2 separate regions of the Homo sapiens genome follow, and region 1 is linked to region 2. Evidence: fine-mapped expression QTL. A gene starts in region 2. The other region holds a variant in brackets. All regions are shown on one strand. Distances are from middle to middle. Region 1 overlaps KCNA6-AS1 (KCNA6 antisense RNA 1). Region 2 holds the start of KCNA6-AS1 (KCNA6 antisense RNA 1).

The links. PIP is the estimated chance that this variant, and not a neighbour inherited with it, causes the effect. A credible set is the group of variants that fine-mapping cannot tell apart.
Region 1: its variant is the best candidate, but not a certain one, in a credible set for the expression of KCNA6-AS1 in T cells (GENCORD, PIP 0.50).

What each region holds. Positions count from the first base shown.
Region 1 is chr12:4,794,240-4,809,159 of GRCh38, forward strand. KCNA6-AS1 (KCNA6 antisense RNA 1) reads right to left here. Exons shown (of 3, transcript NR_199077.1): 3 at 10,246-12,629. Among named protein-coding and RNA genes, the nearest start is that of KCNA6, 7.6 kb to the right of the region's middle. The variant A/AT (reference allele first, on the strand shown) is at 5,632.
Region 2 is chr12:4,823,358-4,838,496 of GRCh38, forward strand. It overlaps KCNA6-AS1 (KCNA6 antisense RNA 1), which reads right to left and starts at 7,414. Exons shown (of 3, transcript NR_199077.1): 1 at 7,073-7,414. It also overlaps a transcript of KCNA6 not described here. RefSeq lists enhancers at 356-1,555, 6,053-6,242, 6,303-6,462, 6,892-7,393 and a silencer at 2,152-2,352.

The sequences.
Region 1 (14,920 bases), 29 kb before region 2:
ATCCATTCCTGGTCTCCCTGTTTCTGACCAGGGAGTAAGAACCTGTCTTGTGGGGATGTGGGGCACTTCCCTAGAGCAAGGCCCCTTCTTGGCTTTGGGAAGGACCAGAGGATTAGGCTGGAAGTTTTTTCATGGAAATGGAATTCGAATTGGAACCTTATGTTGGATTCTCTGGGCTTCAGAGCACGGCTATAGCATGGCCTACATGCGCCAGACCTGGCCTCCTGAAGGTCTGCTGACCCTTTGAGTTGACAAGCACATGCCTTCTCCCCCAAGGGAGAGGCTGCATGCACATCCTTTTCCTGTAAGAATGCCCATCGGGTGAGGAGATAGTGTAATACAATGCCCATGTACATCTGCATGAATATGTGTGTGTATATGCTTGCACATGTATGTGTGTGCGCATGTATGTGTGTGTGCATTTGTGTGTGTGTGTGTGTGTTTAAAGAAAAAGGAAGCCACAGAAGGTTAGTTCTGCATTCAGGAAAGCAGATGGGTAGGATAAGCATTGGGCTGCTCTGAGCTCTCACATTGTATTCACTCCCTGGGAGGCTGCTCATTATAACTGCTCAGCTGGGTTTGAATCTCCACTCCGTAACTTATTATTTGAGTGACTTTCTGCAAGTTCTTGACTTCTCTGAGGGGACCAGTTATCTATTGCCGCATAACAACATACCCAACACATAGTGGCTTAAAACAACAATTTATTATTATTATATTCACAAATCTGTGATTCAGGAATTAAGTCATAGTGGGAACGTTCTGTATCGCTTTATGATGTCTGAATCCTCAGCTGGGATGGATTGAATGGCTGAACACTGAAACAGCTGGGGACTGTTTGGGGACTGTCTCTCTCTCTCTCTCTCCCCATATATATATGTACCTGCATATCACTTAGAGTTCTCTAGAGGGACAGAAATAATAGGATATATATCCTATTTTATATATATATATCCTATTTTATATATATATAGGATATATAGATAGATATGAGAGTTTATTAAGTAGTATTAACTTACATGATCACAAGTTTCCACAATAGGCTGTCTGCAAGCTGAGGAACAAGGAAGCCAGTCCGAGTCCCAAAGCTAAAGAACTTGGAGTCCAATATTCGAGGGCAGGAAGCATCCAGTATGGAAGAAAGATGTAGGCTGGGAGGCTAAGCCACTCTAGTCTTTTCACATTTTTTTTCTGCCTGCTTTATATTCTAGCTGCGCTGGCAGCTGATTGGATGGTGCCCGCCCAGATTGAGGGTGGGTCTGCCTTTCCTAGTCTACTGACTCAAATGTTAATGTCCCTTGGCAACATCCTTACAGACACACCCAGGATCAATACTTTCCATCTTTCAGTCCAATCAAGTTGACACTTGGTATTAACCATCACAACGTGGAAGGAGTGATATGAATGTATGTATGTGTGTGTGTGTGTACGTATGACTAGATAGACAGTCCTTGAGGGCGGAGGCCATGACTCTTTTGTTCCCCACTCTATACCCAGGGCCTAACACTGTACCTGGTGCACAGAAGATGCTTAATACGTATTTATCAAATAAATGAACAGATTGTTCTCAAGTCTGCCGTATGTATGGTCAAAAGAAAGAAGGCAATTATGACAAGAAAGAGTGAGGGTAGGAGAGGCAGTCCTCTCAAGGAGCCTTCTTTTTATTCTCTCCACATGCATAAATATTGCTCAAGTCATCTCTGAAATGGGTGGAGAATTCCGTGTATTTTGCAGTTAATAAAGCCTGAGGTGCTCAGGGCTCACAGATTCTTACCTGCATACTAGGATGATATAAAAGGCCTGCATGAATTGATACAGGCTTTTCTGATTAATGGGTTCTGGGAATAAATGGTAGATACAGAGTACTTTGAGATTTTTCGATGACAAATCAGTTGGAAATGTCCTCCACTGTAATTTTTACCTCTCCATATTTTGGCTGTTAGTATAAGATCCTTCAGCTTCTGCCATCCTTCATCTTATCCTCAGAAATGGCACTTCCCAATATAGAATGGTACAGGAATACTTTAGAATAGAGGGAAATGAGGGGAAATAGCACCGAAATGATGAGTGTGTTTGCGTCCTCCCTCTCTATGCCTCTGTGCTGTGTAGAACGCAGCTGGTAGCACTTTTCCTCCCCCGCGTCCCCTCTGAGAATCAGGCCCGGCTCAGCGGGGAGGGGTGCATAAAGCCCACTCCTGCCCGGAGGAAGAGCCTGGTTGTGATGTCTGCTGTTGCAGTATCAGGCCAGACAGGAATTAGGGGAAAACTGCTGTCATCAGGGAGTTGCTCCCACTGTTGTTCTTCGTAAAATGTGGTTCTTTCTACCAATCAGTAGGCAGATGCCCAGAGACCCTCAGAAATGGTATAAGCCTAGAATTGGCAGCACACATCCAGGCTCTGAGGCTTATAGAACCAGGATTAAAACTTACATTGGACCTCAGTCCTCTGGTCTAAGCCCCTCTCTGTGCAAGAGGGGAAACTGAGGCCCAGGAAAACGAGGTGACACAGGTGAATCAGCAGCCTGGCCAGGCTCGCAAGTCAGGCTTTTGACTCCAGCGTTAGTGTTCAAGGCTCCAGATGTGGACATTCCTTGTAAACTGTAAAACACCCAAACAGGAAGATCATTATTCATGTTGTTACATTCCTGTGTCCCTTGGTCATTTGGATGGGACATGTAAATGAACAGCAAGTGGGAGTACATTTGAGAATCTCCCTTCTCTTCAACAGCCATCACCTCACCCTCTTCTCCCTGAAACCTCTCCCACCCCACCCTCCACAAACTGATCCTCCCCTTCCCTGGACTCTGGCTACTGCACTGTTTCCTAAACCTGGGTTTGGCTGGAAACAACACCCAAATATCAGAGAGGAGGATGCGTGGGAGAAGGTGGACTGTGAAGGGCTTGGGCCGGGCTTTCACCTACAAAAAGAAATGGATGCAATGGACATGCTCCAAAGAAGGGCAAGACAGGTCCCCTTCACTTGCTCACTTGCCTCACATCGCTGCTGGCCCCAATCCCCAAACGTCCCAGCAGGTCTATGTGGAGTCCGTGCTCTCAGCCCATCGCAGCAGCATCACCCCTCTCTGTTATCAGGAGTCTGGCAGCCTCTGTAATTTGTGTCTGGGAGGAAATGAGATCCTCCTTACACAGGGCCATTTCCAGGCTTCCTGAACCACTGAGAGTGCTGGAGGAGGAGGGGATGAATATTTTATAAAAGGCCATAAAACATAATTTGTTCCTTTGAGTGAATTAGAGACTGTAGTTAAAAAAAGAGAGACGTTACCATCAGTGGACCAGGAGTTTTGCATTATTTAGCCCCAGCTATTTCATTACATCTGTAAAGCAGGAGAACCAGAACATTAAAATCACACCCTTTGCTCCTCAGGAAGGGAAACAGAATCTTTGAGGCCCAAATACATACAACATAGACTCACTAGGCAAGGAGCAGCGGCTACCTGCCTGGAATGTGCTCACAGGGGTGACATGAATGCTTCGGGTGGAAACAGGCAACCAGCCTGTCCAGCTCACCACACTGCTCCCATCTAATTGCATCAAAGGGGGAAAGGTGAGCCAGTGGACCTAGCGGGGTCTTCCTTTTCTGTTAGGATCTTCCCTAACCTCCCCTTTCCTCCTTTCCTGAAGCAATTTCCTTTCCTTCTCCCAGACTGGAAGGGGAACTTGAGCCCCGAATAGAGAACAGCCTAAAAGTGGACATCAGACATCCCTGTTCCAGTCTCTGCATCCCACCAGGAATAGTGCCTCACAAGTAATGTCTTTGAGACCTTGCCTTCCCATCTTCTTTCGGGGACCTGTCCTATTCAACAGATATTTAGTCTTCTCTAATTTCTTCTCTTTTTCAACCATAGGCTTTTCCAAATGTCTGACTCTGGGAGAAAACTGAAAATCATTTTTTTTGATGCAAAGCAATTTAACTTCCTTTGCCTTAAGGTCTCCATCACGAACCATATCCTAGTCTTGACCATTCTTAACCATAAAGTCCTTTAGTTTGTTTTCAGAACTAAAAATACCTTTTTACCCCATGGATTCCACATCTACCAAAATAAGCAATAGATATGAATTTTAAAACTACAATTTCGTTAACTGTGCCAAAGGCTTAAGATCAATCTCTTGGAGATCATATTCAAAGAACTTATGCTTCCTTCCAGTGGTAGAAGAGGCAGGAAAATATTTTCCTCATTTTTACAGAACATGCCCTGAAAGTCATGGCTTTTTTGTTCTTCCATGGACTGGCATTTGGTATTCCTTCCCTTTGTGCCTGCTATTTGGGGCAATTCCTGCAATTGAACGTGGCTTTGTGTGTCTTGTCCAGCTCTCCTTCCATCAACCCACTCCTCCCTTCTACACACATACACACACACACATTCTGTCTCTCCCTCTTTCTCCCTCTCTTTCTCTCTCTTTCTCTCCCCTCTCTCTCTCTCATGCACACATGCGCAGCTGCATAGAATTTGCTTCTACTCCATCAGTGCCTTGAGAGGGGATGGTGTTGCAGCTGAAGAGAGATCCTTTTGGACCTGTGTCATTCCTTATATCACCTGCTTAGTAACAAGTGCTCTCTGCACATAAGCCACCTGGTCCTTTGTCTCTTCTTCTTGGTTGCTTGATCCTCCTTCTGTCCCTCATTGTTACTCATTAACTTACATTTATCGAGCACCTGCTTTGTGAAGGACATTGTGCTAGGCCAGGGGGAGAAGGTATAATAACAGGGTCTTTGTCCTCAGGATCCTTGGAGTCTATGAGAAACTTGTGATTCTCTCTGACCTGCCGCTTTGTCCTGGGAGAATTTGCTATTTATGACCTTTTGGGGTAGAGTAATCCTGCTGAACAGGGAATTAAGAGATCTAGATTTCAGTCATTGTAGCCATTAAGACTATGGAAAAGTCATTTGCTCACTTTATACTCTGATTCTGGCATCAGCAAAATCATGCAGTTGTTTGAGATGAGGTTCACCATCCCTCCTTAGTGCTTGATTTCTATGATCTTATGTTCTTATGTTCTATAATACACAAGTGCCTCCGAATGTGAGGCTTGGTGAGAATAGGGTTTTGTGGTTAAATACATCTGGGAAACATTGGGTTACATAATGTTAAGGGATGTATCAGAGGCTTTACTATTCTAATGTCTATTGTGAGGCTCTCTGAGACAAAGTGTAAGATTCCTAAACTCCCTTCATTGGGGTGGGTGTTTATAAATATCAAATCAATTTTTTATCAAACTAATTTCTTTTTCTTCTGAGTTAAAGAATTTACATCTCTAGGTGGCTGGTTCTTTGATCGGGAGTGGAACCCAGATCACGGCAGTTTGGAATCCTAACCACAAGGCTACAGGGTGGAGTGCCTTGTCTGTGTAAATATCTATCAACATGGTGAGAACTAGAATTGTGTAGAACACAGTTTGGGAACATGAAGAAAGAGAGCTCCCCACATGGGCTCTGGACTCAAGACTGAGCGCATTTTTTGAAGGGTCTCACCGTGTCACCCAGGCTAGGGTATAGTGGCATGATCATAGCCCCACTGCAGCCTCCAACTCCTCGGTTCAAGTCATCCTCCTGCCTCAGTTTCCCAGGGTGGGACTACAGGCATGTGCCACCATGCCTGGATAACTTAAAACA[A/AT]TTTTTTTTTTTTTTGTAGAATGGCTGCATTTGAAGCCTGCTCAGGTACCCACTAGCTCTGTGAGCTGGTAAATTAAACTTCCTGTCCTTCTGTTTTCTCATTTTTAAAAGGAGGCTAGGAAAAGCTTCTACCTCATACCTCTTAGCAAAGTGCTTGGAATGCAGTATGCATTCAAAAAATGCTTATCATTAGCTATTACTATCTTTAGTCAATATTTATTGAAAAGTTAGTAAACAGAAGAAAGTTACAACATTTTATCATAAAGACTTAGCTACTGTCCATGACCCCATTGGAGATGCAGATAGGACACCAGAGTTAGACAACAGGTTGCTATCATTTCAGTGGTAGAGTTAGGTCAGAAAATGGACAAGGAAGAGCAAAAATTCAGACCAGTTTAATATAAACAAAGTGAAGATCTCTGTAGAAAGCTGTGGTAGGAGGAGAAGTAAGCAATAGTAAGAATGAAAAAGTTGGCCAAAGTTAGGCTTTTGAAATTAATTTCATGATCCATGTTCAATTCTCTTCTTCTAGGCATAGAAAATAGAATATTAATGATCTCTGTATTGTATTTATCTTCCAAGCAGGAATGCAAGTAGGCATATTGGTCAGGAGAGACAGGGTTATGCTGCAGTAACAAACAGCCCACAAAGCTTAGTGGATTATAGCAAAGGACTATTTACTGCTCAGACTACATAGCCATCCCTGGCATTCCTAGGGTTCTGGTCTATGTCTTTCAATCTGGGTTGTAGGCTGATGGGGTTGCTACCTTCTCAAGTGCTATGGATCATTATGGCAGAGGAAGAGAGCATTGGCAATTAAGTGCTGCAGGCCAGATATGACACATGGCACAACTTATCAGCTAGAACTAGTCACATGACTCTCACTCAATCACATGAAAACCAAGAAAGACACAATCTTACCATGTACCCAGGAGGTGAACAAGCTGGAAATGTTTGTCAAATAGCAGCAATGACTACCATTGCCTGCCATTAGGGTCACAAAATGTTTGTCTCCCCCAGGCAAAATCCACTTACTTACTGCCTAAGGAAGACAGCCTAAAAGTCCTACCCAGTCCTGGTATCAAGCTGAAATGCTAGGGTCTCTTGTGGTGTGTAACAGGGCAGTTTTCACCTTAGGGAGCGGCATGTTCTAGTCTCCACATCAGGTGTGAATGTGGATCCTTTCCTTTCTGAGACTTAGGCTCCAAAAAGATAAGTAATCGTTTCTTTCCCACAAGACAAGAAAAGATTCATTTGAAGTAGGACAACTGCAATCAATATTCTCATTCAGAAAGGGGGAAGACTAGGGAAGCACAGCAGTCACTGGTCCATAACGACTCTGAAATCCTGTGAAACACAATTCGACCCTCACTTAGCTGCCTGGGAGTAGATCCCAGCCCACCGTTCTCTGCTTATGGATTGTCCCTCTGGAGGGTCTTCTTTCTGTTGCCCTCCTTGCTCCTATCAGAGATGGGAATTGCAGATGATATTGAGCAGCTTTCTTGGCCGGCTTCTTGTCCATGATAATTTAGGGGCCCAACGGTACATTACATTTTGAAAAGTCGTGAATGGTTTCGTTCAGGTCATGGTTCCTTTGGCAGGATGACTGTCTGAAAATCTTCTTAGGCTTTTTCCTATGTGTTTCGGGCAGATCTATGTACTGATAGCCAATAACCACACCTATGGTTACAGTTGTTATCCTATTCTAAAGGAGCCATTGTATGTCGTGCTATGGGATAGAGGCAGATAATTTGTCTTTTGGGTTTTTAAGTCTCTGAATTGCAGAAATCCATATTCAAAACTGATGTAGAGACTAGCACATGTCACTCCTTAATATAAAAACTACTACGCACTGCTAGAGAACCTAGCATTTCAGCTTGATACCAGGACTGGGTAGGACTTTGGGGTTATCTTCCTTAGGGAGTAGGTAAGTGTATTTTGCCTGGGGGAGCCATGGTTCTTCTCAACTTGAACCTAACAGCAATAATTTGGGTATATATATTATTTGTGGGATGTTACAGCTTTAGTCTTGTTTTTTCTCTCGCTCTTACTTGAGCCAGTTTGCCCAGTTTGAATGATTTTTTGAAGCCATAACTTCAATTAAACTTTTGCCCTAAATGACTTATTCCATTCAGAGGAACTGACAATGGACATGACTGCCCTGTGCTTGATTTGTTCCATGGCATGAGCTGAAGCACTCATCAGTCTTTCTTGTATAAAGGTCTTTTAAGTTTTGTTTACTTCTTTGGGGAATGAGAAGCAGCTGTCTCTGTCTACACTGAAAATCCCCACATTTCTGGACTCTCTCCTGTCCATTTCATCTCTGCTTTCTGGCCAAATCTTTTCTGAACTCATCAATATCTTGCACTACATTGTCAGATGCAGCCAGCAGTGGCCACCATACAATATAACAAGCTGTTTTTCAACCATCTTCCTAGATATGCAGGATTTTAGGGATATAATCTGCTTTCTAAGTTATCACAGATGACAGTTTTCAGAATATTTTTCCATTTGTAACATGGATTGCCTGCAATGGCCTCCTATAAAATTTCTTCAATACCTGTCATCTGGCCACAGAACCAATGTCACAAGTATTTTTTTAATTTTTAAAATTTTATTTATTTATTTTTTTGAGACGGAGTCTCACTCTGTTGCCAGGCTGGAGTGCCGTGGTGCAATCTCAGCTCACTGCAACCTCCGCCTCCCAGGTTCAAGCGATTCTCCTGCCTTAGCCTCCTGTGTAGCTGGGACAACAAGTGTGTACCACCACACCCAGCTAATTTTTGTATTTTTAGAAATTGGGTTTCACCATGTTGGCTGGGATAGTCTCGATCTCTTGACCTTGTGATCTGCCCACCACGGCCTCCCAAAGTGCTGGGATTACAGGTGTGAGCCACCATGCCTGGCCATGTCACAGGTTTTAACTTTTTACTTTTGGCAGCTTCTTACTTCAGTTTGGGTAGACTTGATTCTGCTATGGGAAGAAATCAATCCCTGAATACCAGAGGATTAGAGCAATAAGGGTTTGTTTCTCACTTATGCTACTATTGCTTCGGCTGGGGGCCAAGCTTCCTGCCACCTTACCCTGTAATGCAGCTCACTCTGACAGAGCAGCCACCATCTTGAACAAAGCTGGTCATTGTGGCTGGCGTGAAGAAAGCTCTGGGGGCTTTCCCATGAGGAATTAAATATTTTGGTTCAGAAGTGACACATACCACTTCTGCTTATAACTCACTGTCCAGAACTACTTGCCTGGTACCACACAGCCACAAGTGAGTGAGACAGTAAAATTCTCCATGTTCCTGAAAAGTAGAGAGCTGGAGACATTTGGAAAACAGCATTAATGACTATCACAGGAGGAGAATTGGATGAAGATGTAGGCTGCAAACTTAGGATACTAACAAGCTCTCTTGGGATCCTCCCCGAAAGGATAAGGAGTTCGTTATAGATTTATTTCTTGGCATGGATAGTAATTTCCTGAGGCTGTTGATTGGTGTGGCACAGATGTCTAATGCATTTCTTTTCTAATATACAGCTTCACCCAAGCGAAAGCTGTTAGATTTTTCTCTACTGAATTATGGAACATCATCATCACCATCACTACTTTGTAACTGACATCATCGTCCTCATTAAAAATTGGACTAAGCAGCTAATTATAAATAGTGCTTTTGTATAGCACATGTGTTTTCATTTGTCCCCCTGACTCCATCCACTTGGCCACAGGGGAAGCCCAGGAGGAGGGAAATGGCCACAGTGCATCCAGAGACGAAATGAATAGAAGGGAACTTCAGGTCAAAGCGTTGTGCTATCAAGTGTTGGCAGGGAACATCAATGAGTTTGTGGAACCAGTGGGTGCTACTGCAGGAAATTAACCCTCGAAGTTCAAGATATCTGACTTCTTTTTAATGTAACTCTCAGATGACCAAATTTTTGGTGTGTGTGTGTGTGTGTGTGTGTGTGTGTGTAGAAGGAGGGGAACAAAAGGAAAACAGCAAAAATTGACTGCAAAGTATAGAATTACCCGGTCATCCATTTTTCTCCCCTTCTTCCCCAGGATTCAATGCTGTCTTCTCTCTCCAGCAGAAAAAGTAGGAGAAGGTTAAGAGAAGGAGTAAACATGACCCAGACCCTGGGGAAAGGGGTGAATGAGGGGACCAGAGAAGGGAGTTGGGCCAGGCAGAACGCTGTGTTTGGACAGAGGAGCTTCCACTTGGAACACGCTGAAGAACCAAAGCTCGAGGGCAGAGCCTTGCCCAGAGTGAGATGGTGAGAGGAGGGACACGGGCTCAGACTCATCACCCCTGCTTCTCACTGGCTCTGAGTGGTTTGGATTCCACAGTGGAAAGCTCAAGAGTGGGGTGGGTCATTCTAGGGAGGGTGTTCCGTGCTTGTGCACAAGTGTTGTGTTCTCTCAGTAAGAGGTAAGGGAGCTGACGACTCGCCACCCTGTCCTCAGAGCAGGGGCCTGTGGGTGACAGGACCATGAGGAGAACCATTTTCAGAGGTTACACAGAGAAAGAGGAAAACTTCAGGGATCGTATTACCAGAATGATGACAAGTGCACACACACACACACACACACACAGCAAAATAAAAATGTAAAGAAGCCTGGAAGACAGATCATTTATGTCATTTATATACCTGGAATAGGTACATTTTAGAACCTAGGGCAGAGGTCAGAATATAAATGGTTATCACACAATGCTTCACATTATCTGTGCTCATCTTGTGGGCACATACGTCCATTCTTAGGTGGTTCTTCCCATGGATGCCCCCCACGTACTCCTGACCTGTTGCAGATCATGTGTTCCACTGGAAGGCCAGCGTGGGCCCAGGAGGATGGGGCCCCTGGGGTCTAGTCCTGGTTGTTGGTTTCCAGGAGCTCTCCATCTCTTGGCTTTCCTTTGACTTCACCTACAACCCCTCAGCCTCCTATGCTGGCTGCCCTTCCTCCTGACCTTGACCGGTAGATTGAAGACTGCTGTGAAGGACTTGGTCCTGGTCATTTCTCCTCGTTGTCCATATTCTGTTTCTGCAGAAGACCTTGGTGCCATGAATGTATATATTTCTAGATGTCTTAAATTCATAAATCGTAAGTTTCTTTTTCATATTCCAGACCTAAATAAATAACTGCCTCCTTGATGTCTTAATTTGCATGTATAATTTCCCTCTCCAATGTAAAACATCTAAAGGTGAGGTCTTGACGCATCCCAACTTGTTTAACCCCTTGTCTTCCCTTTCTCAGTAAAGGGCGACACCTACCTGCCTAGTTGCTTGAGCTTGGCATTGGCTGCTTATTTCTCATGTTTTATTGATGACTAATTCCTGCTGATTCTATCATCTAAACATACCTCCTCAGTTCTCCTCACCTCCTCTCCACTCTATCTCTACTGACTCTACCTTTCTCTGGCCCAAGTCACCATCATCTTTTCCCCAGACGACTGCAATTTCCTGGTCTTTCTATTTCTTCTTCTACCTCTTCATAATTCATTCCCCTCCCAGCCTCTAAGTAAATCACATCACGTCTCTCCTCTGCTTGAAAACCATCATTGGCTTCATACCGCCCTTAAGATAAAACCTGAACACCTCACCCTATAAGATGGTACCCTTGCTAATTCTTCAATCTTATCTTGCACCTCCCTTTCCCTTGCCCATTCTCCTCCCAGCGCACGGCCTTCTTTTTGACCTTGAACACCCATGACCTTTCTAGCTCAGGGCTTTTGCACTTGTCAGTCTGGAATGCTCTTCCCTGCATTTGGCACTGTGGCCCCATTCTCTTATCTATTTTTGAGACAGAATCTCCCTCTGTCACCCAGGCTGGAGTGCAGTGGTACAATCTCGGCTCACTGCAACCTCCACCTCCCAGGTTAAAGCGATCCTCCTGCCTCAACCTCCCAAGTAGCTGGGACTACACGTGCCCTCCACCATGCCCAGATAATTTTTGCATTTTTAGTAGAGACAGAGTTTTGCCATGTTGGTCAGACTGGTCTTGAACTCCTAACCTCAGGTGATCCACCTGCCTCAGCCTCCCAAAGTGCTGGGATTACAGGCATGAGCCACCGTGCCAGGCTCCATTCTCCTCTTTGGATTGTCAGTTGAAATACTACCTCTTCAGAGGGAACTTTTCCAGCTACCCTTGCAAAGTTGAGTCCCCAAGTTCATTTCTGACATGGCATCCCATTTATCCTCCTCAAGGCATTTACTGCAATATGGAATTATTTTCCTTATTGTCTACTGTTAAAATTTTCTGTCTATAATGTAATTTATTACATGAAAATGTATGCTTATCAAAGCAGATATTTTGTATAGATCACTGCTAAATCCTCAGCACCTGGCACCATGCTGGCACTCAGTAGCTGCTCAATATATACTTTTTAAATAAATGAATGATTGCTATGACCATGGCAAACATCTGAATCTGGATACAACAACAAAAAATAACAACAAAATCTGTGCTGGCATGAAATTGGTGCTTGGTGAATGCTGGGGAAAAATCCCCTGCCATTGGAAGCCACTTGGCAGTGTTTATGGATGGAGCTGTGTCTTCCTTCACCTGGGAACTGGCATTTCTGAAGGTGTGATTGTACTCATCCTTAACATACGCTTGGGGGGAATGATCTAGGCATAGGGTTTTTCTTAAGCTAAGAAATGAGTCTATTTCACAAAAGAACTAAAAACAGAACTCTGATTCATGAATTTGCCAATGGCTTGTCCTTCTCAGGGGAACCTCCCTGGGCACAGTGAAACCCTTCTTGGGGCACGACCTCATGCTTGATGTGAAGGTCATCACAGAACATCAGCTCTGCCTGAAGGGTGGCCGGCAGCCCAGTCAGGCTTAACCCGAGGGGTACTCAAACGGAGGTTCTTGACACCTTATCAGGGTGTGTACGCTTCTGCAGAACGAAGGTTCCTTCCCATGCTTTGCCAGGATTGGTTTTGAAGAATTACTGACCTAGTTGACAGTCTCGTGAATAAAAATGGCAATGATGAAAACAAACCTGCAAATGAATCATTCATTATGAATTTGAAAACAAAAACAAAAAGAATCAGGGGTTAGTCAATTTATGACTCAGAAAATAATGACAGATAACTGGATAAGGGTAAAGTGACAGATAACTGGATGGGGGTAAAGAGTATCTTCTATAGTGTATTTGCTGTTGGTTTCCTTTTTTTTCTTTTCTTTCAAAAAGATTTTTTAAACAGAGCAACTTTTGTGTGGAGTCTAAATGGCTTAATTACATAGTCTGTAAGTGAGAAAACTCCGCTGGATGACTCCATGTACTTGCTTTCTCTCCCTTCACGGAAACATGCAAGGTGAGAGAAAGGAGTGGAAATGAGACAGGCAAGCATGAGATGGGCAAGCTGGCTGCTTTCCTGTTGTGATGTGGTTTGGAGAAAAAAGAACAAAAGCCCTTTACTCAAGCTGTAACTCCCAGCCAGTCAGCATCAAAGGCCCAAGAAGCTATTAACCACAAATTAATTAACCCCTTGCTTTAGAGAACTAAGGACCTTTCTGAGGCCCTACGTGCCTAGCTAGGCTTAACTTTCACCTCATCATGAACTTTTCCTTATTTTAGTACTAAAAATCATGCCCACAGGTGGAGATTTAAGATGCTAATGAGACATATGTTGTATGAAGCAGCATCTTAAGCCACCGTACATGTGCCCGAAAAACCTCACCTCTACATGCCCTGACTTCCCCTTACTGCAGACCTCCACAAAGGGAACCCACACCTTGACTTTGGAGAGCAACCCACTTCCTTTCTTGGTGTTTGGTCCCTTATGTCCATAAGCTTTCATAAAATCTTTCTCTTTGCTACTGTATGCTGTGATCTCTTTTGATTTCTATCCTGGGGGATCAAAAAAGCCCACAGGGCGTTGGTGCCAGAAATCAGCTGTGCAAGCACAGAAAGGGAGCAGAGGCTGTTGCCTGGCTCAACTGGTGAGGAGCAAGACTGGAGAATGAGCATGCAGTGAGTTCTAATACTAGCACATTTCTTACCCACTCAACACCTGATCCCTTCCCGACACATCCAGGAGCCTTGGTTCTCTCCTTCCTCCAACTCTCTGAGAGTGAATGCTGCTGAGAACCACTGTGGTTTTAAAATACTCCGTGCAATACAAAGAACTCTCAGATGCATCCTGTGGTTTGAGAGCACCTTTATGTGTCATTCTCATCATTAACCTCAATGAATGCATACTAATGATCTAATATGCACCAGAAGCTACACAAAAACACTTTGTAGTTGTTAGCCAATTCATTTTGGCTACAGCCAGCCAGAAAAGAGGAAACTGAGGCACAGAGAAGCAAATGTCAACCCTACCTGGAAGTGTCAGTCTGAAAAGATCAGTTGAGTCTTCCTCTACCAGACCCCAACTTGTCTGGTCTCGTGAAGAAAGACAGAAATGGATGGAAAACCATTCTTATCACCTTCTTGCTGGAGAGTTAGGGAAGAGTCAGCTGGTCCCTAACAACAAACTTTGCCCTACTCCAGTACTGCCAAAGGGGTCTTTGTTGTAACATGGCCTACAAGGAGAGGACATCTTTCTGGGAAAGCACCTAGAATGTGGCTGGCACATATTCAATGCCCAGTAAATGTAGCTATTATTTTTTCAATCAACACTCTTACATACCCCTTTTCCACTCACCCTCTTCTCCCTTTTTTTGGTCACCCAATAAGCAGAAATTCCAGATGCATCCTTCGGGGTGGTTGGGAGCAAAGGATCCCCAGGGTGCACTGTGCCCTGGGCTGAGGTATCTCTGAGGTGCTTCCATCTTCTGGGTCCTTCCTCACTGGGGTTGTTGCCTCAGGCTCTCAGGACTCCCCTGGAAATCTTCTGATGGGAAAGGCATTGATTGACTTGCCACCCTTTCTCTACCATCCCTTTGCAATTCTGGGAGAGTTGCAGCCCCGCCCTCCCAGGCTTGCAAAGGTAGACGGAGAATTATATTGGAATTTAAATCGGAAGCTCTCAAGGCATCTCAAAAATACTTTCTCTATTTTTTTTTTCCTGTAGATATTGGAGAGGTTGGCAAACGGGTCTTCCTGAAGACAGAAGAATGTATGATTTAATGTTTTCTTTAGATTTCTGTATGAGTGGATGCACAGTGCTCCGTATTGTGTGGTGGGGCGGGGTGTGTCTTCTTATTGATGAAATACACTGCGCAGGTCAACTCGGTAAATTGAAATGAGAAGAGCCGACTGCGGGGGTGGAGGGGGTGTGGTATTAGGGTGCCGGCGCTTGTGGAGGGGGGCGCGAATGTGAACGTGTGAAAGCGAGAGGCGTG
Region 2 (15,139 bases):
GGCATTGGAAATGATGGAAATGATGAGGATTGCTGATCAGACTTGAAAGGAAAAAAAGCTTTTTTTTTTTTTCATTTTAGGAACTAGGAGATATTTTTCAAAATGTATGTTCAAAAACGGGAATTCCGGCTGGGTGCAGTGGCTCATGCCTGTAATCCCAGCACTTTGAGAGGCCGAGGCGGGCGAATCACTTGAGGTCAGGAGTTCGAGATGAGCCTGGCCAATATGGTGAAACTCCATCTCTACTAAAAATACAAAAATTAGCCAGGTGTGGTGGCAGATTTCTGTAATCTCGGCTACCCTGGAGGTAGAGGCATGTGAATTGCTTGCACCAGGGAGGTGGAGGTTGCAGTGAGCTGAGACTGCGCCACTGCACTCCTGCCTGGGCGACAGAGCGAGACTCCATCTCAAATAAATAAATAAATAATAAAATAAAATGGGGAATTCCAAGAAAATCTATCATAATCTCTCTTTTTCTTACTGCATGCAGACTGTAAGTGATGCATTTGCAGGTGGGCAGCACTGCCTTTCCCACACCTGTAGCTGTGTCAGGTGAGGCAGGACAGGAGACATGAGAACATGGTTCTGAGCCTCTTGGTCTATCTGTGAACAATGTAGGCAGAAGGTGATATCTGTCCACCCTGAGGAAGTCAGCTCCCAGTGCTGTTCCCCACTGGTGTCTGCCTGTGTGACCCGGGGAGAGTTCAGAACCTCACTGAGCCTTGGTTTTCTCCTCTGTAAAACTGGGCCATTAATAGACATCCCTCATGGTGGCCAGTGAATGGGTGGAATTAGAGCAGGTAATGCTAACAGGCCTGGTATGTGGCGAGCATTCAGCAAAAGTTATTATTTCATGGTCTGTTTCTTATTTGCCCACTTTGACAGAGTAGTGAGGCATAAGCAAGGTCTCTTGTCCAAACGTTAGATACAGTTAAAACCACTCAAAGCTCTCATAAATCAGTCTTTTGGGAAATATGTCCATCTATGTAATAGTTTCTCTTGTTTTGTAGATTTGGACTTCCTGATCAAATAGTGACCATGATTCAGGTATTAAATCATCAAATACTTGGTCATAACAGAGGCGACTCATGTAAAGGGGCTTACTACCTTCTTAGAGTGAAACTGTTTCCTTGCTAAAAAAGCCAGCAGCAGAGAATATCCAGGGATTTTGTTAAATTCCTAAAGAAAGAACATGAGCAATGAAGTGACTTACCCATTGAGAATCCCCGAGATCAGCGAGAACTTCCAGAAAACTTGGGAATCCACAGAGAGGTTGAATGACTGAGTGTGGAAGCATCTCATGACTCAGCTATTCACTTGGCTGACCTGTGGGCTGCCGTAAGCGGGAGAATGAACGGGAAGAAATGCACAAGGGTGTAGGTAGGATGCTTCCTCCCCGATGCGTAAGGTCAACACTTTTCTTTGCAATTATAATACCAATCTGTGGAAAACAGACTCAACTTACAGAGGATGTATTGGCTTTACCTTCAACATTTCAGGGATGTCTTTAATTTGCAAGCCAGTCAGCTGAACTCACTTAATATATCAATAGAGAATAAGGACAGATGACATGAAATAATTGAGCAGGAAGAGAATTCTAAAAGTCATGGAATTAATTGCCTTGCTGTGTATTAGAAAAATGTCTAGATTATTCCAGGCTTATTCTGAAAAATGCCCAGAGAAAGAGAATCCATAATATAGACTCCTTCAAGCTACTTGTGTTTGAGCACCCTTTGTCAGGATGTTTTCCTCATTTCTCAGTTACACATCTCCTGCTGCACTTTAAACTTCCTTCCTCCTGTTTTGTCTTCTGCTGAAATGGATACTCAAGTGACCATGTTACCTAGAATAACTCATGCCAGAGTTCCTCAAATGTGATCTGCAGAACATCAGTCCTACGCAACTTTCCATGGAGAAAGAATCCCCAGGCACTATGTTTCAGAAATGCTGCCTCTTGGAGATGCACAATGCATCTGAACATGAAATTAAAGGCTCTGAGAAGTCCTGCAGCAGTAAAACTATTTCACTTCTTTAAACCAGTGTTTTTCAACTTCTTACATTTTTAAAAATTTTTACCACAGAATCTCCATCCCCCTTTTATAGTAATGTCTGCTCACATACCCCCAAAACTCATCCAACAAATACATTTTGGAAAACTCGAAGAGATCTGAAGCTTGTTGCAATGGATTTGAGTGCATGGACCCTCAGCCATGAAAGGTTTTTTCAGTTGGACCATTCTGTGGCTTCTTATCAACCTTCTTAAAGTTCTTCACACCCCTCTTGAGTTGTTCAGAAACGGAAGTGGTTTTGATAAGGCACTGAGTAATGTGATAAAACACATCCTCTTCCCTATAGTCCTTATAAGTCTTCTTAAATAGAAGTCTTTGAGAAAATAACAGTAAGAGTTGGTCTTATTTGTTAGGTTTAGAGCTACCTTGCTAGGAAATGTCCACAGCTCTGATGCACTCTGCCAGGCAAATGAGGTCGTCTGCATGGCTTTTGCCTTACACTGTAACAGCCAATTCCTATGCACGTTGTTAACCAAATCAAAAATTGTAACATGGATTTTTTTACGATCACTTTTCTAACTAAAACCTTTTGATGAAAACATTGATGATAACCTTTACTCACTATCCTATTTATGAAATCTTACTCACAATCTGAGAAAGATGCAAATACCAGCAGTGAGTTGTATGTAACCAGGTTTTCTCAGTATTCTTTTCCATCTTCCTAAACACTGTTTTCAAGTGTGACATTTGTCCTTTCTCCCAAGGCATTTTTGGTGCTGACACACCACAGTTGGACCTGGTTCCTCTGGTGCTTGGATTTCAGTCTCCTGGAAAGCTGTTTTCTTCTAGGTGTTTTTTGTTTGTTTGTTTTGTTTTGTTTTGTTTTGGTGCTGCTGAGGGCTCTTACCTCTGACCCTCCTCTGCTCATCTAGCAAGGCCTGAGGTTTGCTGTCTGCTCCTCACCAACTGGTCCAGGCTGAAATTCCTTCTTCCATGGTGTCCCTTCTGTGCTCAGAGGCAAAAGCAGAAAGGAGGGAATTGCTCTTGTCCTGTTGTTGCCTTTGTACCGATTCCTTTTCTGTACATCTTGAGCCATGAGGAAAAGTTTCTGGTATTAAAGCCACTAAAAGTCAGAAGAAGTGGACTGTGGGGTGGGTGAGGATTGCATCCAATTCTGGGTCTGTCACTAACCTGCTGTGTGACCCTACACATGTCACCTGCCTGGCCCTCAGCAAATGGTAGCCATTAGTATTGTTCTCCCACCAGAGTCTTCACTGTAAAGTGAGGTCATTGGATTCAACGACTGGGTTTCTGCTTGAAAATTCTGCGGATACCCAAGTGTATTAATCAGATGTGCAGCTGGCTGCCTGAAAACTTGACAGACTTTATTGCTTGGCTTTTGCCACTGGAGTGATCTTTGAAAAAGAGAGTTGGAGTTACTAGGTTTTCAACTTTATGTAGAATCACTGAATTTCAGAGCTCATATACTCCAGTCTATTATTTTACAAAGATCAGAACTTACATTTAAAAATATACTGAGTAGGTTGTAGCAAAGTTTTGAAAGAGAGACAATAGTTTTTATCTACTGTCAAGCAATGATAAACGTCTTCCTTCTTCTTCCTTTCTGCCTCTATTCCTTCCTCCCTCCTTCCTTTCCTCCTCTCCTCCCTCCTCCCTCTCTTTGCTTCCTTCCCTACGTCTTTTCCTCCCTCCTCCCCTCCATCGTCCCCTCTCTCTTCCCTCCTTCCTCCTTCTTTCCTTCTTTTCCTCCCTCCCTCTCTCCCTCGTTCTTTCCTTCCCTCCTTCTTTCCTTCCTTCCCTCCTTCCTTCCTTCCTTCCCTCCTTCCTTCCTTCCTTCCTTCCTCCTTCCTTCCTTCCCTCCTTCCTTCCTTTCTCTCGCCCTTCCCTCCTCCTTCCCTCCTTCCTTTCTATTTTTCTTAGATGAAGCCTATCCTAGTTATTAAGTGATTCCAGATCCTTCTTTATTTCGGTGTTGCAAAATAAACATTCCTTGGTTTTGGCCGTTTCAAGCACCTTGGCATTATGATGGGGAAAATGCTGGGCAAGAAAAGACATTTCTATATTAAGGAGAAGCAGGGGAGTGCAGCCCAGCAGGGATGCGAACCAGTATTCCCTGGGTCTCAGATTCCACACTAGAGGAAGAAGTCTGTAGAAAGGACAAAGGAAAGAAAGGTTGGTGTTACTCTCTGGTATCCTTAGACAAAGTAGAAGCTGGCTTCTTCCATTTCTGGGAGACAGCAGTGAGCAGCCCCAAGGGCAGGCATTCGATTGTAGTGCCTAGGTCACCTCACTGTGCCGCAAAGTGGCTCTGGGATGGAAAAGTGTCTAGCTCTGCCCTCACAGCTCTGCCCTGGGAAGCTTCCGAGCTGGGGCTTAGCCCTGCACAGCTCCACCAAGGTCCTGCTGCTTTTCGGTGTGTGTTCATCATTCTCATCCCTCTCAGCTTTCCTTCCTACTCTTAGTGCAGCCTCACGAAGCCTCACAGTCCCTGGACAGGGATAGGAAGCCTGTGTGGGCTCCTAATGTGCTGTTTGACCTTGAGTAAGTTGCTTCAATTGAACGCTTTATTTTCAGACTCTAAAAGGAATATCTGCTCATCATCGAAAATTACCCCAATTTAGAAAAGTATAAGGGAGAAAATAAAAATCCCATAACCCCCCCACCAGAGACACTCAGTGTTGGAACTCGGTTGTATTTCTCCCCCAGACTAACTTTGTCTATGTCTGTATCTGTATCTCTATAGAGACACTCAGTGTTGGAACTCGGTTGTATTTCTCCCCCAGACTAACTTTGTCTATGTCTGTATCTGTATCTCTATAGAGACACTCAGTGTTGGAACTTGGTTGTATTTCTCCCCCAGACTAACTTTGTCTATGTCTGTATCTGTATATCTATAGAGATCATTCAGCATTTCATCTGAAAAGCTTCATATTATGTCTCTAGTTTTCTCATGCAATTACTACATAGCCGTCATGGAGATGCAGCATTCTTTTGGTAACCCACTTCCTATTGGACGTTCAGGTTGCTTCTAATGAACGGTGCTACAACGAACACTTGTAGTGTAGATATTTGTTCACATTTATGACTCCTTCCTTGGCTATACTCCTAAAAGAGTCAAGAGATGTAAACAAAGTGAGCAATTAATTTTCTAGGTATCACCTTTCTCACCTATAGTAAAACAACAACAGAAACAACAATCACTGATAGCAGCGGACACTCACATAGCATCTTGTTTGCCAGGCATGTCTCTAAGGGCTTATGTGTACCAGCGCATTTAATCGTCCCAGTTGCCCCGTTATTATCTCCATTTCACAGAAGTAGCTTGCCCAGAGTCACACACAGCCAGTAAGTGGGGTGGTAGGATTTCAGCCTGGGCAGTCTGGCTCCAGAGTCGTGCTCTTATCTGCTAAACTAGTGTTGCCCCTGTGGGATGAAAGAGCTAAAATGAAGAATCCCTGGGGTCCTGTTACCTGGGAACATCGCTAATGTAGCATGGAATCCTGCAAATAATGCTAGAACGGAGTAATGCAGTTGCCTGATAAGAGTTCACCGGCTCCTGTCATCCTCTTCGTCCTCCCATTTGTGTGTTTGACGAGCTTGGGGTCTCTGTGTTTGTGAGTGCATGTGCATGGATATGCAAGTGTTTGTATAATTTTATGAATGGAACAGAGTCCGCAGTGTGTGAAGCAAGAAAGCCTGAACAATCTATTGACACAATAAAGCACTCATAATTGATGCTGTTAGTTATAGATAACTCATCATCGTTTCCTTTTTATCTTAAGGTTCCCAGGCACGTTGGCTGGGAAATGTGTCATTTTATAATTGGAGTTTCACCCCGGTGGAGCAGGAATAGGATGGGATTTGGCTGTCTACTGTAACCCCATCCCCCCAAAGCATGTCTGTACTTACCGTCTGAGGAGGGTGCTTCCCCTCCTTGAGCTGATTTGCCTGTGCTGTCCAGAAGCATTGCTGGATATGATTATCCAGTAGAAAAGGAGCTAATCGACAAACTTTTCACTGGCATAACGTGTCCACATTGCTCTTATTGCTCGCTAAATATAGAGGTTGCCAGGACCCCTTGAAATTTTGATTCAGAAGATCTGGGAGAAGCCTGAGAATATGCCTTTTTAAAAAACATGTGCTCTGAGTGATCACCTTCATGGATTTTGGGGAAGTCTTAGGTAGCAGGTCTCAACCTTCATAGGATATCAGCATCACCAGATTCTTTTGAAAAAAGTACCACTTCCTGTCCTTCTGCTCACTGCCTGCCCTAATTTGAATAACTGATCTAGGGTGGTTTCCAAGTTCAGGATTTAAAAAAAAAAAAGTCTCTAGAGGTTCTTGTGTGCAGCCATAGTTGGGTACCTCCAGCCCAAGAAGTTCTGCTGATAATATCGCACCTATACATTTAATTGCACTTCACATTTTACAACTCTCTTTCACCATTGAACATCGTAACAATTCACTAAGGTCAGTAAAGCAGGCATTATTATATTGTCCTTGGCCGAGAGAGGTTGACTGAATTGCCCGAGGCTGCACAGCTTCTCCCTCAGTCAGCAGCAGCTGTTCCCTACTTGGCTCATGGCCAGTCCTGCCAGTTCTTTTGGAAGGGGCAGCCTCCACTCCCCTGAGACTCACAGGATGAAATCAATTGCCTCTCCTAGTGCTGATGCTCGCGAGGCTCTTTCTTCCCCTTCTCAGCCACATCTTTTCTACTGCAGCCACTCTTCCTGCTCAGAGGGCCTCTCTCTGAAAGGTGCAGTTGCGTTCCCCTCCCATGCTCCATCCCACTTAACGGTTAGGTCATGGCACTGAGGGATGGACAGCTTGGAGCCTGGACAGTCCACATCCTCCACCGTGGTCTGAGGACAGAGACGTGCTGCCCCCCAGCTCCAGCCCCTTCGATGCCATCCTGCAGAAAGCACTGTGCACGCTGCATGGCAGGAGCCAGTAAAGTTCCACACCCCCATCCCAAATTCTCACATCCACCACCAAAGCTTCCTTCACCCCTGCATCCCACCGCGGATAACCTGAAAGCCCACCTGAGTCCTTCCTGGGAGGCGGCTGTGTGGGGCTGGAGCCCCCTGCAGTGGTGAGTCCCACTCCGGACACCTGGCCAATGGGAGCTTAACAAGGTGGCCAGCGAAAGAGAAACAGAACCCGGTAACGGCATCTGCCCCTTCCGCCATCCTCCACCCCGCAACCCGCTGCGGGCTCAAAATCTCTCCTCATTCAAACCGAGGACTTTTGTTTCTCTTTACTGTTCCTCTCCTTGTCCAGACCTTTTCCTTCACACAGGCTGTATCTTGGAGAGGCTCCCAGTGACTGTAGACTTCCTGTGTCAGAATCCTGCAGCCTCTGTCCCTGGGCTGCTTGGGCGGAGTGGGAGGCTGCGGGAGAAGGCGGGGTTTGCCTTGCAGGCAATGCGGGCAGGGGCGCTGCACCCAGGGAAGAGTTCCAAATGCTGATTCTCCCCATGGCCTTTACCTACCTACCTATTCAGCAGCCTTGCAACTGAGACGAAGCCACCCCCTAGCAGACTTTTGCAGGATATCGTTCACTTTCCTCTCTCAGGCCCTGCCCACCACGGGTTGTTGGTTTTGTGAGTTGGTGTGGGGGAGTCAGCAGGGTCCTCAGTGACTTTTGATCTTTCAGCGCTGACTTTCAGGAAAGGTAAGCTCTCTGCCAACAAAGCTGGTCTCCGCTGTGCCTCCTCCTCTTATACAACAACCCTAAGTGGCTTTCCTGCCAGGTGAGAGGATTTGCAAGGACTGCGGAGGAATATGGGACCGACGAGCTCTCCTTTCTCAAAACAGAGGGAGCCTTGGTGCAGATGCACAAAGTGGTCCTTGAAGTTGCATGTGGCCCGGAGCGGCTGGCTTGGTGGATCTTTACTGTTCTGGTTGGGCATTGTCAGGCAGCTATCAGAGGGCCCAAGAGTCCTTCACAATAACTCGTTATCACCCACAAGCAGCCAGCCAAGTTAGTACCTGCTTGACCCCGTCCTGCTGACAGTGGATTGGACCAGGGTTGAGCCTGAGAGCCAGCCAGCATGAGCCTCTTTCCTAGAAACCGTTAGTCAGGAAAAAAACGTTCTGGTTCAGTCTGGGCTAGCCTCTCTATGGGAGAGATGGAAAACCTCCCAGCCATGGGAGCTGGAAGGGGTCGGATCCATCCTCCAGCTCCGCTTTCTCCTTTTGTAAATGCCAAAAAGAATTGGGGTCCTGAGTGATGACTTGATTGGCCCAAGGCCACGTGGCTACTATGACTACTTTATAACAGAGCTGGATTTTGGAGTCCAGTGTGTTAATTCACTTACTCCCTTGGCTAAGACACGGAGCTTCTGAAAATAATCTCTTATGAGAGCTTCCATTCAGCTCAGACTTTGAAGAAATGATAGTTCTTGCATACTATATACAGAGAGAGCACAGGTCTCAGTATCAGACTGATCTGGGCTCAAACCCTGGCTCTCCGAGTCACTAGTATTGAGATCTTGGGCACATTTCTCATACACCTTGTGTTCCTCCAGTATAAAATGGGGATCACTCTGGTCTCACAGAAACATGGTGAGGGTGTTCTATTGAGTAGAAGATACGCTTAGCAAATACTCATTGCTAAATAAAACAAGGCTTCCTGGTCAAAATGAGTAATAGCTCTCTCCTTCCTAGTGCTCTGATTCTGAAGATGGTGTAGTTGTGGAATTATTTAGTGCCCTCATGTTTGTGGTTGGGACCAGAGAACAGGGGCCTTTCTTTTGCTTTTCTTCAGACCCCGAGAGCCTGGGTGTCATCAGTCAGCCCACGACCATCCCTTGTGGGCTTGGGAAAACTCAGACAGAGAGGGAAATGTGAGACTCTGGCAATGTGAAAAAAACAAGTACCTCTCTATTACTTATTTTCTAGTCTTGTGAAGTTTGTTCAACCTACAACCCAGCATTGATTCAAGGCCTCCTCTGTGACCCCACCCCAGCGGCAGTGCGCCCACTGGGTAAGATAAAGTGAGAGGTGCAGGGACGCACAGGTAGAAGGAGATCCTTCAGGCCTGGTCACATCTGAGGTTATGGGGCGGTGGCCTGATACTCCTGAGACAATACGCTTTTTGATACTCTTTTGAGGGTGGCTGCAGAGGACATTGGCTTGTACCTCTGGCCCCTCTGTTCATTCTTCACCTCATAGAATGAACATTTGCAGGCCTGCATTGAGACACTGTTTTGTCCTTGTTATGTGCTTCATGCCCTAAATCACCACATCAGAATTCAATTCCTAGTCACTCACCTGTCTCCAGAACAAATCCCTATGGAATATCCATCTTTCTAGACCCAGAGAGGGTCCTGCCTCTCTCAACCCTCCCTCTCTCCTCATGACTCGAAATCCTAAATCTCCTTCAAAGACCACCTAGCTCATATCCAGCTCTTCATGAAGTCTTTATGTGGACTGGACCACTCCTTTTGCACTCAGCAGAGGTTACCTTGTGTTGCTGTACATTTTTAGACTGTAAGAGTCCTTTCTAGAGATACATGTGCCACCAAACCCTCACCTCAGGGGGGTCAACAACCTAGTTGAAAATACGTCTTAAGTGTAGTTGGGCTGCCATTTTCTTGAAGGCAGGGCCCTGTCTCATCGTTTTTATTCCTCAGAGCACAATATCAGGGAACTATAGGCTGCATGTAACAGTGGCATTAAAAAAAGAGAATATTTTTTATCTCATATGAAATGGAGTCTTGAGGAAGGACAGCTTCAGGATTCGTAATGCATCAGTTAGCTATTGTGACATAGCTAACCAATTAAAAACCGAAAAGTTTGAAACACCACCATTACTTTATAGCTCCCAATTCAAGCAGGTCAGCAATTTTGGCTGGGCTCAGCTGGGCAGCTCTTCTGGTCTCACCTGTGCTTCCTCATGCATCTGTGATCCCTCATGCATCTGTGGTCATCTCTAGGTTGATCAGGTGGTGCTGCTGGGGGTTGTGTGGCTGTTGGCCAGGGAGCCTCAGTATCCTGCCCATGTTGCTCCCATGTCTCTAGCAGGGCAGCCTGGAGTATCCCTCTTGAGACGAGATTTGGAGTTGGTGCAGTCACTTCTGCTGCAGTGCTGTTGACTAAGACTCAGTAATGAGGAAATAGACTCTGCCTCTTCGTGGGAGGAGCTTCAAGGTCACATTGCCAAGGGCAGGTGGAGCATTGGAAGCATTTTTTGTAGTGGGTCTGCCATAGCCAATGATGTTAGGGCTTGAAGAAGTCTGTTCTTAGGACTTGCTTGGCTTTTTGCCTCATGCTCACAGATGGCAGCAGCAGTTCCAAGCATCATGTCCTCACACAACAGTGTGTGAAGGCAGGAAGGGTTGAGCCTAAGGATGAGGAAAACTTCCCCAGCTGTCTCCTATGAGCCTTTCCTTAGGCTGTGGTTAGGGCGGGGCTGTCCTAACCAGAATAGACCAACGGCTAGGATTACCATGATTAACTTAGAGTCATCCCTAGGCTGGGAGGGACTTGTCTTCTTCTTCTTCTCCTTCTCCTTCTTCGTCTCCTTCTTTTTTAAATTAAATTTTTTTTTTTTTTTTAGACAGGGTCTTCCTCTGTCACCCAGGCTGGAGTGCAGTGGCGTGATCATGACTCTCTGTAGCCTTGATGTCTCAGGCCCAAGGGCTCCTCTCACCTCGGCCTCCTGAATAGCTGGGACTACAGGCACACCCACCATGTCTGGCTATAAATTTTTATTTTTATTTTTTGTAGAGACAGGGTCTTGCTATGTTTCCCAGGTTGGTCTGAAACTCCTGGGCTCAAGCAGTCCTCCCACTTTGGCCTCCCAAAGTGCTGGGATTACAGGTGTGAGCCACCATGCCCAGCCAGCCTGTCTTCTTTGAAGTGTTGGCTTCCAGAAACCTGAACAAAATTGGGGTTCTGAGAGCACAAAGGCAGTAGTGAGGGGTGACAGCTGGGTTGGGAACCGGTAGGGTGCAGAAGAAGAAACTTACGTCGTGTCTTGTACCCACTTATTTTTTTAAATAGACATTGATATTAAGCCTATAATGTGTGAGGCACTAGAGAATTAAAGGTGAGCAAAACTTTAATCTTCTAAGAAGGTCATGTCTAGATGGCAGATACGAGTAAACAGCTGACTGAAGTACAATGGTGGTAAATGGTAGAAGCGGGGGCTTGGGGATTTAGGGCAGACTTTCAGGGCTTATGTGAGGGCTCAGATCCTGCCCTGCTGTTCATGCCTTATCACCAGTGGGTTCTGACAGTAAAGACCAATGCAGGCAGCAAGGTACCACTTTATTAGTATCTAAAGCAGGACCCAGCTACCTGCAATTCAGGGCTCTCCAGTAAAAGACTGAGTTGAAACCCGCAACTGGGACTACAGGCCAAAGTGGGGTCTCCTACTCTCATCGACCTTGGAGCCAAAATCTGTGACAAGCTCTTTTACAGCTGACTTTCAGGAGGGTGAGAGAACAAGACCCAAAAGTGGTTCTAAGCCCTCTTACCCAGCTGATTTCATGGAGTGAGAATCATACGGACAGAAAGGAAAGGTGCCCGGTCTGACCCAAGGGACCAGGGACTGAAAAGCAAGCTGGTTTTGAGGACTGACCTAAGGCACAACAACTCTGTTAACTAGTAAAATGTAGCCTAACCAATGTATTGGGTTCAACTGTTGGGACTGGGAATTTAGCATTCTTGGAGTCTATATAGGAGGGAAGCTAATAAATGCAAACTGAGTACTCCCATTTTTCTAAGAAACAGAGAATGATTTTTTTTTTTTTTTTTTGAGACAGAGTCTTGCTCTGTCGCCCAGGCTGGAGTGCAGTGGCGCGATCTCTGCTCACTGCAAGCTCTGCCTCCCGGGTTCACACCATTCTCCTGCCTCAGCCTCCCGAGTAGCTGGGACTACAGGCACCCGCCACTGCGCCTGGCTAATTTTTTGTATTTTTAGTAGAGACGGGGTTTCACCGTGTTAGCCAGGATGGTCTCGATCTCCTGACCTTGTGATCCGCCCGCCTCAGCCTCCCAAAGTGCTGGGATTACGGGCTTGAGCCACCACACCTGGCCAAGAATGATTTTTTTTAAATTATTTTTTTCTTTCCTTTTTTTTCCTCCATTTCTCCCTGTTCCCACTTCCTACTTAGCCCTTTATAAATGTAATTCTAACCTTTACCTTCCCTTCAGCAGACACTCCCTATAGGGCTATTTCATCTAACTATGCGCTTAGAAGTTCCAGAGTGGAACTCTCCCACCAGGAGACTTCCTCATGGGACAACAGTCAACCTCCAACCCAAAGTTGCTTGTTAGGAAACTCTCTCCCACCTGGAGAGTCTTGGCTACCTTGAACAACCTAGTCCTGCCCACAAAGACATCAACTCAGCTGTCTGATAGATAAGGCACCGAAGCCAATATGTGTACCCCGACCTGCTGGTTTCCTCTCCTGCATGTCATTCATGCTAGGCCCCCTTCAAAAAGAACCTTCTTTCTGTTCCAAAAGCAAAGTGGTGCCCTTAAGGCAGGAAGCCTGTACTTCTTCCCCTAAGGTAGCTATGGAATAAAAAGTCGCTGTTTTTTTTTTTTTTTTTTTTTTTTGACGGAGTTTCGCTCTTGTTGCCCAGGCTGGAATGCAATGGCACAACCTTGGCTCACTGCAACCTCCACCTCCTGGGTTCAAGTGATTCTCCTGCCTAAGCCTCCTGAGTAGCTGGGATTACAGGTGCCTGCCATCATGCCTGGCTATTTTTTTTTTTTTTTTGTATTTTTAGTAGAGACGGGCTTTCACCATGTTGGCCAGGTTGGTCTTGAACTCTGACCTCGGGTGATCCACCTGCCTTGGCCTCCCAAAGTGCTAGGATTGCAGGCGCAAGCCACCACGCCTGGCCAAAAGTCACTGTCTTTATACCAGACCTCACTCTTGTTGATTGGACTCTTCCTGCAGTGAATAGATCAGGTGGACTCTGCAGTAAGTGATACTGTGAAGGCAGGTAACAGGTGGTCTGGGTAAGTGAGGAAGAACAACAAATTCTTCTTTGGCACTGGAGGGGGTCAGGGAGGGTTTCCCAGGGGAATTAACACTTCAGCAGGGCCTTGGAAGATGACTTGGAATTTTCATTGTTGAAAATAAAATTCTTAATAAAAGAAATGGCTTGAACAAAGGTATGGGGGTCAAGAATAGGATGCTGTGTTCAAGGAGCTAGGAGCTTGGGATATATGGAGTGAGAGAAAGGGTGCAGGAAAGGCTAGAAAAATAAGTTGGACTCAAGATTGCGAAGAGTCATGAAGCTGCTTAGAAGTGGGATTCATTCTGAAGGCCATGGGAGCAAGCAGGAGTTTTAGATCAAAGTGACATGCTCAGGTCACATTTAGGAATGATGCCTCCGGCTGAAGCAAGATGGGAGTGCGACAGACTAGCATTGAGGGCACCCAGTGGGAGCAGTGTCTGATATAGCCAGTTGCAGGGAGACATGCCCGGGTGGCTCGCCTAGGAGAAATATTTTATCATTGACATTGCTTATAATTGCTAGTGATATTGCGGAATATATATTTGGTCTTCATCCTGTTTCCTGGCATAGGGATCTCCAGAGTGATTTCTTTTTGTATGTCAATGAGTTTAATGATGGCTGGCAGCCCCTGGATAGCTTCAGGACAGTGGCTGGTCACTGAAAAGACCAAGGCAGGATTATAGGGCTGGAACTTTCAATCCTGCCCCCCACAAGGGGTGAGGGGCTGAAGGTCAAGGCAATCATCAATGGCCAGTGGTTAAATCAATCATGCCTATGTAATGAAGCCTCCATAAAAACTCCAAAAAGGACTGGTTTCAAAGAGCTTCTGGATAGCTGAACACATTGAGGTTCCTAGAAGGTGGCACACCCCAATAGGGCATAGAAGCTCCGTGTCTCTTCTCCATACCTTGCCCTGTACATCTCTTCATCACTATCCTTTGTAATAAACCCATAAATGTAAGTAAGTTTCCTGAGTTCTGTGAGCCACTCTAGCAAATTAAGCAAACCCACGGAGGGGGTCATGGCAACTCCAGTGTATAAAACCAGTCCCTCAGAAGCACAGGCAAAACAACCTGGGGCTTGTGACTGGCACTGGAAGTTGGGGGCAGTCTTGTGGGGCTGAGCCCTCAACCTGTGGGATCTGATGCTGTCTCCAGGTAGACAGCATCAGAATGGAATTGGAGGACACTGGCTGGTATCTGCTGCAATTGCTTGCATGTTGGTGGGGAGGAATCCCCAAAGATTTTATCACAGAAATCTGTGCTGATTGTTGTGGTGTGAGAGCAGAGGAAGAAGTTTGTGTTTTTTGTCTACTCACAGACGCATATGGAAATAAAAAGCAATCAATTTTTGGCCAGTATTATTGTTTTAATGTCCTCTGTGGACAATGCAACCCTTTATTGCCTGTGTGGGTACAGACTGCTCTCCACACACTCCTCGTTGCTCTACCTGTGGGAGGCTTTTATGGTAACCCAAGCAGAAGAGGCTACAGTCACTTACTGAGCATCTGCTGGGAGTGCATGGATAGACTGCCTGAGTGTGGGCTCTGCAGCTCAGAGGTGGTTTGAAGAGAGCCTTTGTATTTGGGTGCTGCTGCGCTAGACTGCAGAGACCGCTCTCCAAGTGTTCCACTCTGAGAGAGTAGAAAATAAGCACACCCACTAAGAGGGCATAAGGTGGGGAGGGATGGGGTGGTTATCATCATCTGACTGCCTTCGGCTGCAGGGTCTCATAAGTTCCACCTCCTGTGGCCATGGCCAGAGTGGCACCCCCTTGACCCTCTCCCAGAGCTTAAGAACCCCTTCCTCAGACGTTTGGAGGGGATGGTAAGGAACACTGTCTCTTTTGTTCTTGGGATGTCCTCCATAAAAATTTCAGAGCTGCCTGGGAATCAAGTTGAGTGGAGATGTTTGACGAATAGGTTTATTCAGAAACAAACCTAAAGCTTTGCCTGCAGCCTCGTGGCTCCTGGCTTGTCTAGGAGCCCTGCTCCCTGCCTTTGATACTGGGAGGTGGTAGCATGGCACCTTACACACACTGGGGGCTACCAAGGAGTTTACAGCGTGATACTGTTTGCAGAGCAGTGACTGAAGACAGCTGCTTTTCTTGACCTCTTATTGCTTTTCAA